Linked DNA regions of Homo sapiens: region 1 is linked to region 2. Evidence: fine-mapped expression QTL. Tissue or cell type: subcutaneous fat. Region 2 holds a variant in brackets; the other region holds the start of a gene. All regions are shown on one strand. Distances are between the middles of the regions. Region 1 holds the start of OSGIN2 (oxidative stress induced growth inhibitor family member 2). Region 2 has its middle 22 kb from the start of OSGIN2.

Region 1 (4,397 bases), 22 kb before region 2:
AAACATAGCAAATACTTTGTTTTCACTCCCTACTCCAAATTTCTGTGCACGGCAGGAAGCAAATGGTATTCAACACCCAGTATTAGTCAAAAGAATATGAATCCTACACTGTGCATCAAAAGGTGTCAAATAGCTTTCACACAATATTTTCTGAAAGGCATGTTAGATTCTCATGGGCTTTATTTAGTTTAACAAGTTTCACTAGGGGAACCTATTTCCTAAAAGTTTCCATAGTGAATCTGATACCTTCAAACCGCTGTCTCAGTAGTCAACAAATTTGCCTAAAAGTTAAAATCAAGCAGTTTATTATATGAAACAATTTTTCCTTAATATCCACAACCTAGAGACTCATTCTAAACTCACTGAGAGGTTAGACAAGCTTGGATTATCGCTGTTACAAAAGAAGTTCCAAACTTTCTCTATGCCTTACATCTCTTTTACTATAGGATGACGCTTCTTAACCTCTTCTCTGAATACTGTTCTTAAATATACACAGGATTTACAAGAAAACTAATTCTATTAAAACAGTCATAAAAAGTAAACGCGATATATATATGTGCTTCTCTGTTGCATTCAATAAATTCAGTGATGTGTTACTATAATTTTGAATAAGTATAAACAGTATTTCTATATTAACTGCAATGTGATATAAACATATTTTATGATCTCTACTGATGACAGTCACAGATACTACTGTGATTTGTTGCTTATATTTTAACTGAATATTAGTTTTTAAAATTTAGTGAAATGATATACCTTTCTTTCCATCCAAGTTCATGGGTTACCTAAATTGTATGAAACCCACTATTTAGGAAGGCTTGATCAAAATTTCATATTTTACCAGGGAAGAAGTCTTACATAGAATTATTCTGGAACATCAGTATATGTAAAGCAAGGTACTAAAGTATTCCCTATGCTTAACCATTCTTCACCCCAGGGTTAAAATCAGTTTCTAGTGTCTGGTCTTTCCACCAATGACTGAGGTGTTGACCAAATGTGCTAGATCTAGAAAACATACTTTTATTTTAGAAATGTATTATATTTTATCACCCCTAAAACCTTTCCCCATAAGGTGATTGTAAAACCGCCTCATTCTTTAAATTTCTACAACACACACGTCTTACCATGGCTAACATCTTAACAAGGCAGAATCTATTTGTGATTAGATGACACTGAAATGTAGTTCCCTACCTTCCTTCCACTCATTACATTATTTAGAAGACTTTTTAAGAAATAATTTTTTTTTAGGGAGGCAGGCACTTCGTAGAACCCCCTTCACTAAAACTTTGCACTACTGGGAAGTCTCAGCTCGCCGTAACCGACTCAGTCCGGCCTAGCCGATCCCGCAGTCCCGTGACCCGCGCGGTCCAGAGCGAGAAAAGGGAACAGCGCAGGGCTCCCCGGAGCAAGGACCCCACCACACCGCACCCCACCCCACCCCCACGCCAGGCAGGACGGCCGAGGCGGGAGGACGCTGCGGTCCAGGCGCTCGCCCTCCACCCCGGTCCCGGCCCGGGCCAGGCCAAAAAGCTCGAGAGCGCGGCATCCCCGCCTGCTCCCCTCCCATCCCCGGCGAGGAAGTCACCTGAAATGACCGGCCAGGGAGCAGCGGCAGCACCACACGGGCATGGAGCGCTGCGCGAGGGGCGCCCGAGCGCGGCCGCCGTGGCCGCCTCCGCCTCCCCCGGCGAGGCTGCCCGCTCGGGGCGCCCGCTGGCTCGGGGTCGCGGGGTCTGCCGGGCGCCCCTGCCTCGCGCCTCGCCGTTGCCGCGGCTGCCCCGGCTCTGTGGCGCCGGAGTCCGCCTCCAGATAGCGGCTTCCGCTCCTCGCCTGCAGGGAGCCAGGCGCCGGAGGCGGGTGATCTCGGGGCGCCGCGATAGGGGCGGAGCGGGGCGGGGACGCTGCGACGGCGGCTGCAGCGGCGCGCGGGCCCCTCCTCGCAGGTGCGGCTGCGGCGGGCGAAGTCTGCGATTGGTGGAGCCACGGCCCGGGCGAGGGGCCGGGCCTGATGGAGCCGAGGCTGCGCGGGCAGGGGACCGAGGTCTGCAGGCAAACTGCGCGGCTCGACCGGCGGCAATCGAGACCTAGACCTCGGTCAGCGCCCCGCCGCCCCTCTGCGTGCGACTTGGTGAGGCCGGTGGGTGCGCGTCGAGAGGGCCGAGGGACGAGCGGAAGAGAAGCTGCTGCGAACTCGGGCCACCCAGATGGCCCGGCGGAGTTCCCTGCGTAAGGCGCGGCCTCGGCCACTTCGCCGAGGACCCCGGGAAGGGTCGAGCTTCCCACGCCTGAGAACCCACCTTTGGGCATTTCCTCGCGCTGCCGGGGTGCAGACGCCGGGAGCTTCCGGGTGCCTCTCCCGCTGACCCCCGCATCACAGTTACCTGGAGGACTCACCAAACCACAGGTGCCCGGGACCCGCCCACCACGCTTCTTTTATGGAAGTCCCGCTTCCGGGAAGAGGTCATCCTCCCCTCTTCATGTCTCTCAAACACCCACAAGTGTAGGAATTACCAGCACGCCGGGTGAAAATCCAGGTGCTCATCAGGCCCGCCCCAGACCACACCGGCCAGTGTGGGGAAGGGCAGGAACCCCTGCTGCTTTTTAAGCCCCTGCGGGCGTTTGTGATGCAATAGGGAGTTAGAAAAGTACTCAATAGTGAGTGTCGTTATTCGGTTTGTCAAAAATTAAAGGTGGGGAGGACAAAAATCAGGAGAGATTGATTGCATCTACTTTTCTACGGAAATGTCTAACTCCGCTTCCAAAAAAAGCCGTAATTATTTTTGTGCTTCAAATATACGTTTATGTTTATATCTTTCAACATAATTTTGTAAAACAAATGTTAAGTTTTACTGAATGTTGTCACTGAACAAACTTGTGATGAGCAGGTATTTTAGAGTCTTGGGGTCTTAAAAGAAAATCATAGGACTCAGACTGCCCCAGAGTTATGCAATCTAAGAGTATATTAACCACTTTTAAGTATTATATGTTTTTCTCTTTTTTGAGCTTTTGTCGATTTGACACGTTCATTTCATTTGAATGTTGGTTCTGAAAATGAAGCATGTAGTTACTTTTCCGTTAACATACATAACAGCATTTTAAAGTACCTAAATTCCTTTTGGAAGGCCGAGGCGGACGGATCACCTGAGGTCAGAAGTTCCAGACCAGCCTGACCAACATGGTGAAACCCGTTTCTACTAAAAATACAAAACCTAGCCCCGGGCGTGGTGGCACGCGCCTGTAATCCCAGCTACTCAAGAGCCTGATGCAGGAGAATCGCTTGAAACCGGGAGGCGGAGGTTGCAGTGAGCTGAGATCGCGCCACTGCACTCAGCCTGGGCCAAAGAGTGAGACTCCGTATCAAAAAATAATAATAAAGTACCTGGCCGGGCGCGGTGGCTCACGCTTGTTATCCCAGCACTTTGGGAGGCCGAGACGGGCAGATCACGAGGTCAGGAGATCGAGACCATGGTGAATGGCGTGAACCCGGGAGGCGGAGCTTGCAGTGAGCTAAGATCGCGCCACTGCACTCCAGCCTGGGCGACAGAGCGAGACTCCGTCTCAAAAATAAATAAATAAAGTACCTACATTCCTAAAAGCAGTGCTTAATTCTGCAGCACATATACTAAAATTAGAATAATATAAAGATTAGCATGGCCCCTTCCCAAGGATAACACGCAAATTCGTGAAGCGTTCCGTATTTTTAAATATATACACCTACTATGTAACCAAAAAAATTAAAAATAAACATATAAATTCCTGAAAGCTATGCCAGTCCAATCCAGATAATTCTTTTAATTTTTAATTTTTATTTTTTGTGAGTACATGGTATATATATTTATGGGGTACATGAGATTTTGATACAGGCATACAATAAGTAATAATCACATCAGGGTACATGGAGTATCCATCACCTCAAATATTTATCCTTTCTTTGTGCTACAAACAATCTAATTATACTTAGTTATTTTAAAATGTTCAATGAATTATCGTTGACTAGTCACTCTCGTGCTGTCAAATACTAGATCTAATTCTGTCTATACTTTTGTACCTATTAACCATCCCCACTCTGCCCCTTAATTCCCCACTACCCTGCCCAGCCTTGTAACCATCATTCTATTCTCTGTTAGTTCCGTTGTTTTAATTTTTAGCTCCCACAAATAAGTGAGAACATGCAGAGTTTGTCATTCTGTACCTGGCCTATTTCACTTAAAGTAGTGACATCAGTTGCATCCATTTTGTTGAAAATAACAGGATCTCATTCATTTTTATGGCTGAATGCTACTACGTTGTGTACATAAACCACATTTTCTTTATTTGTCTATTGATGGACACTTAGGTTGTTTCCAAATCTTGGCTGTTGTGAACAGTGCTGCAATAAACATGGGAGTGCAAGTATA
Region 2 (4,397 bases):
CAGATTATAATCTCCAACTGTAAATTCTTCTCCAGCAGGGGGTTGATTTGGGCATTCTTGTTATGTACTCAGGATATGGAATCTGAACCACAGTGTAGTTTCACATTTGCCTCTGCCTAGGCTGATGGATTTTGCCATACCTGGACCAGTTACAATGCAAACATCTCAGTTTAGGATCATTCCACAGTTACCTGCAGGCGGAGGTGCTGGCTTCCAGTGGGTGACTTCTTTTCCACCTAATATTTTAGACAGAGGGCAAAGCTTCCTTACAGTTTCCTAGGCAGGGTCAGTGGCTGAGCTTCTTTCATTTCATGGGATGATCAGCCCCTTACGACTCCTGGTTGTATGCAGGGAATTTAGTTTGGAGATTTTCCTGTCAATTTCAAGCTTGACATTACAACCAAATCTTCCATTATTATATTTGATCCATGTGTTTGTATTGGGAGGAAGGGGTCTTTCTAATATCAGCTTGTGTTGACATGTTAACCTACAATTCATTGATTTATTTAATATTTGTAAGTCTTTCTAATCTTTCATTATATTATTGTTTCTTAGGAGTTCTGATTGGATTTATTAATCATTTCCTTATCACTATAATAACATTTACTTGTATCATGGATACAAAGGTGATGATAAGTAAAGAATTTTTCGTTTTCCCCACCCCCCTTGAAATAGTTGGCTCAGTTTAGTCTAATAATATTATGTGGTTTCTAAATGACCATCATTCCTCGGGCACAGTAAAATTATTTTTTTTCCAAAAGGTTCAAGCCAGAACTTTGAACTTGAATTCACTGCTGGTATGCATAATACTTAATACCTTTATTATTATTTGGCATCTAGTTAACAGCCAATGAAACCACTTTAGCAGAAGCATTTACATTTAATTATTCATTACTCAGAGTCAGAATTCCATTCCATAAGAGTAGGACTAGCAAAAGCCAAGAAAGTTCTAGATAGGCTGAACTATTAGGAAAACCAATACATTTGACACTGACACATGGAACAAAGCAGGCCTATTTTTAAATCTGAATTAAGTAAAAGTGGACAGTAGAGTTTTGGCTTTCAATAGAAGCCTAGTTACCAGAATTGGGACACAAGGTGGACAAAGCCACGCTTGAGCTAAGTTTAGACATACATGTCACGGCCACAAGTTACATGAGTCCAGTTAGTTAAATATTCTTAGAGAAGTGGTATAGCCCATTGGAACTGATTCATTGTCTTACACTCTCTCGTCAGTCCCCTACTTATTCATTCCTTTAGATATGCATTCTTTCCTTCCAGTATGGCCCTCTGGTTATTCCATTCAGATGCTATAGACCAAGGCAGAGCACTCAGGACTGCCAAGGAAACTTGGTGTAAAGGCAGCACGTAGCAAGAAGTCTCCATTACTATAACTTGTCTTTCTGGGAACAGTTCTGATGGCTGCTTCCCCTAGCTCCTCAGCTTCTTTAGTTCCAACTTTTCCCTGGTGACCATGATCCAGTTTCTTCCTATTTTAGATTTCTGTCTGGGACACTCCTATAGCTATGGCCAACCCATCCTAATGGGCTTTATTTGTTCTACAAATTTCTTAAATTGAAGGGTGACCTATAAACTCTATGTAATTCATTTACATAGAAATGTGTTATGCTTCTTAGCTTCATCTTATGAAGATATATTTTAGTGCCAAAACCTGGAGTAAAATAGCGTTAAAACTTTATTAACTCTATTTTTTATTTTTGTCTTGAGACAGAGTCTTGCTCTGTCACCCAGGCTGGAATGCAGTGGTGCAATCTCGGCTCACTGCAACCTCCGCCTCTTGGGGTCAAGCAATTCTCCTGCCTCAGCC[T/A]CCCAAGTAACTGGGATTACAGGCGCATGCCATCACGCCCAGCTAATTTTTGTATTTTTGGTGGAGATGGGGTTTCACCATGTTGGCCAGGCTGGTCTCGAACTCCTGACCTCAAGTGATCTGCCCACTTTGGCCTCCCAAAGTGCTAGGATTATAGGCGTGAACCACTGCACTTGGCCTATTAACTCTATTGACAGAAGAAAATATTATGTTCTTTTTCCCTCAATAGTCTTTTGATTACTTGGAAAGTATCGAATTTCTGAGTGTCTATACAGTCACTACTCTGACTTTAATAATGTGTTAACCTGAACATTGAAAGAGAAACTGTAAATCTAATGCAAACATGCAGAAATTACACAGAATCACATGTAGATCTTACTTGTCCTATGTATGTAAATCACAGTCTCTGGAAAATTCGAAAGGATGTCACTGTTCCCTGTCTTTGATGTCCTAGCCTACCTGTACAGGTTAGGATTCTTTGACAATATGCCAACTCGTGCTCGTTGAACAAATATTTTCTTTTCTGTTTATCTCAGTGTCTACCTGCTTATCTTATTCTGCCCAAATCCAGTTGTAGAAGTTATACCCTTCACCAAAAATACAAGCCCTATGCCTTAGCATACTCTACAAGGTATGTAGTCTATTTTAACAATGGCTTACCCCCTTACACAACCTTCCAGCAACCCTGAAATCCTAGTAGTTACATCAATACACCAAGCTATTTCTTGTCTTGAGCCTTTGTGCCAGGCATCCTCTTTCCCAGGAATGCCCTTCTTTTTATTATGAGATAGAATTCCATTATATGAACTGCCACAACCCATTTACCAGTTAAAGGACATTGGAGTTGTTTCCAGTTTGGGGCTCTCATAAATACAAATTTTAAAAACTAAACATTTGTATACAGGTCTTTGGGTAAACATATATGTTGTTTTATTTGAGGAAATTCCTAAGGGTGGGAATGCTGAGTTATCACCCGAGAGTATGTTTACCATATAAGAAACTTCCAAACTCTTTTCCAAAGTGTCAGTATCATTTTCCATCCTCACATGCAATACATGATAGTTTCAGTCACTCAGTATCCTCACCAACACTTAATGTTAGTCAGTCTTTTGATTTTAGACATTCTGGTGATATGTAGTGACATCTCATTGTGGTTTTAATTTGCTTTTCATGAATTATTAATATTGTTGAGCATCTTTTTGTTTTGTTTTGTTTTTGAGATGGATCTCACTCTGTCACCTGGGCTGGAGTGCAGTGGTGCGATCTTGGCTCACTGCAGCCTCCACCTCCAGGGTTCAGGTGATTCTCCTGCCTCAGCCTCCAGAGTAGCTGGGATTACAGGCGCCCACCACTACGCCCAGCTAATTTTTTCAATTTTTAGTAGAGACGGCGTTTCACCATGTTGGCCAGGCTGGTCTCGAACTCCTGAGCTGGTGATTCACCCGCCTTGGCCTCCAAGAATGCTGGGATTACAGGCATAAGCCACCACGCCTGGCCGAGCATCTTTTTATGTGTTTATTTGCAATTCATATATCTTCTTTAGTGAAGTGGGTATTCAAATCTTTTGCCCATTATTGGGTTGTTTGTTTTTTATTGTCTTGTTTTTTTGTTTGTTTGTTTTTGTTTGTTTTTTTTGAGACAGGATCTTACTCTGTTGCCCAGGCTACACAGTAGCCTCAAACTCCTAGGCTCAAGTGATCCTCCTGCCTCAGCCTCTTGAGTAGCTAGGACTATAGGCACACACCAATATGCCTGGCTAATTTTTTTTTAAAAATGTTTGTAGAGACAGAGTCTCACTGCATTACCCAGGCTGGTCTAGAACACTTGGCCTCAAATGATCTTCCTGCCTTGGCCTCCCAAAGCATTGGGATTACAGGTGTGAGCCACTGACCTGGCCAGTTTAGCAATTCTTGAAAAATGAATTTTATTAGGAAGAGACATTGTGGGTTTATCAAACATCTGGAGTGGTTTTTTTTTTTTTTTTTTTTTTTTTTTTTAGACAGCGTCTCACTCTGTTGCCAGGCTGGAGTGCTATGGCACCATCTCCGCTCACTGCAACCTCCGCCTCCCAGGTTCAAGCAATTCCCCTGCCTCAGCCTCCCAGGTAGCTGGGATTATAGGCGTGCACCACCACGCCCAGCTAATTTTTGTACTTTTAGTAGAGACAGGGTTTCACCATGTTGGCCAGGATGGTCTCAGTCTCTTGACCTTGTGATCCACCCACCTCAGCCTCCCAAAGTGCTGGGATTACAGGCGTGAGCTACCATGCCCAGCCTGGAATGTTTTTAAAAACATTTATTCTCTATAATTTTCAAACATGTTTAAGCTAATAACCCTCTTCCATTAAAATATATTTAAATTTCTACTTTAGAAGTAATATATGGTCATTACAGAAAATTAAGAAAAAGGGTATATATTTCTGTAAAAAAAAAAAAGAAAAGAAAATGAGTCCAGATGTGATGGCTCATACCTGTAATTCCAGCACTTTGGGAGGCCAGGGTGGGTGGATCACTGGAGGTCAGGAGTTCGAGAGCAGCCTGGCCAACATGGTGAAATTCCATCTCTACAA

The links.
Region 1: OSGIN2 starts here. The variant in region 2 is fine-mapped to the expression of OSGIN2 in subcutaneous fat (GTEx, PIP 0.92).

Annotation. Positions count from the first base shown.
Region 1 is chr8:89,900,026-89,904,422 of GRCh38, reverse strand. OSGIN2 (oxidative stress induced growth inhibitor family member 2) reads right to left here and starts at 1,853. Exons shown (of 6, transcript NM_001126111.3): 1 at 1,586-1,853. The coding sequence starts at 1,629. LOC124901974 (a long non-coding RNA gene) reads left to right here and starts at 2,017. Exons shown (of 2, transcript XR_007061001.1): 1 at 2,017-2,404. It also overlaps the pseudogene RNU6-925P. RefSeq lists silencers at 229-288, 1,282-1,731, 1,762-2,101, 1,851-2,149 and enhancers at 2,443-3,208, 3,209-3,974.
Region 2 is chr8:89,878,518-89,882,914 of GRCh38, reverse strand. No RefSeq gene overlaps it. Among named protein-coding and RNA genes, the nearest start is that of OSGIN2, 22 kb to the left of the region's middle. The variant T/A (reference allele first, on the strand shown) is at 1,829.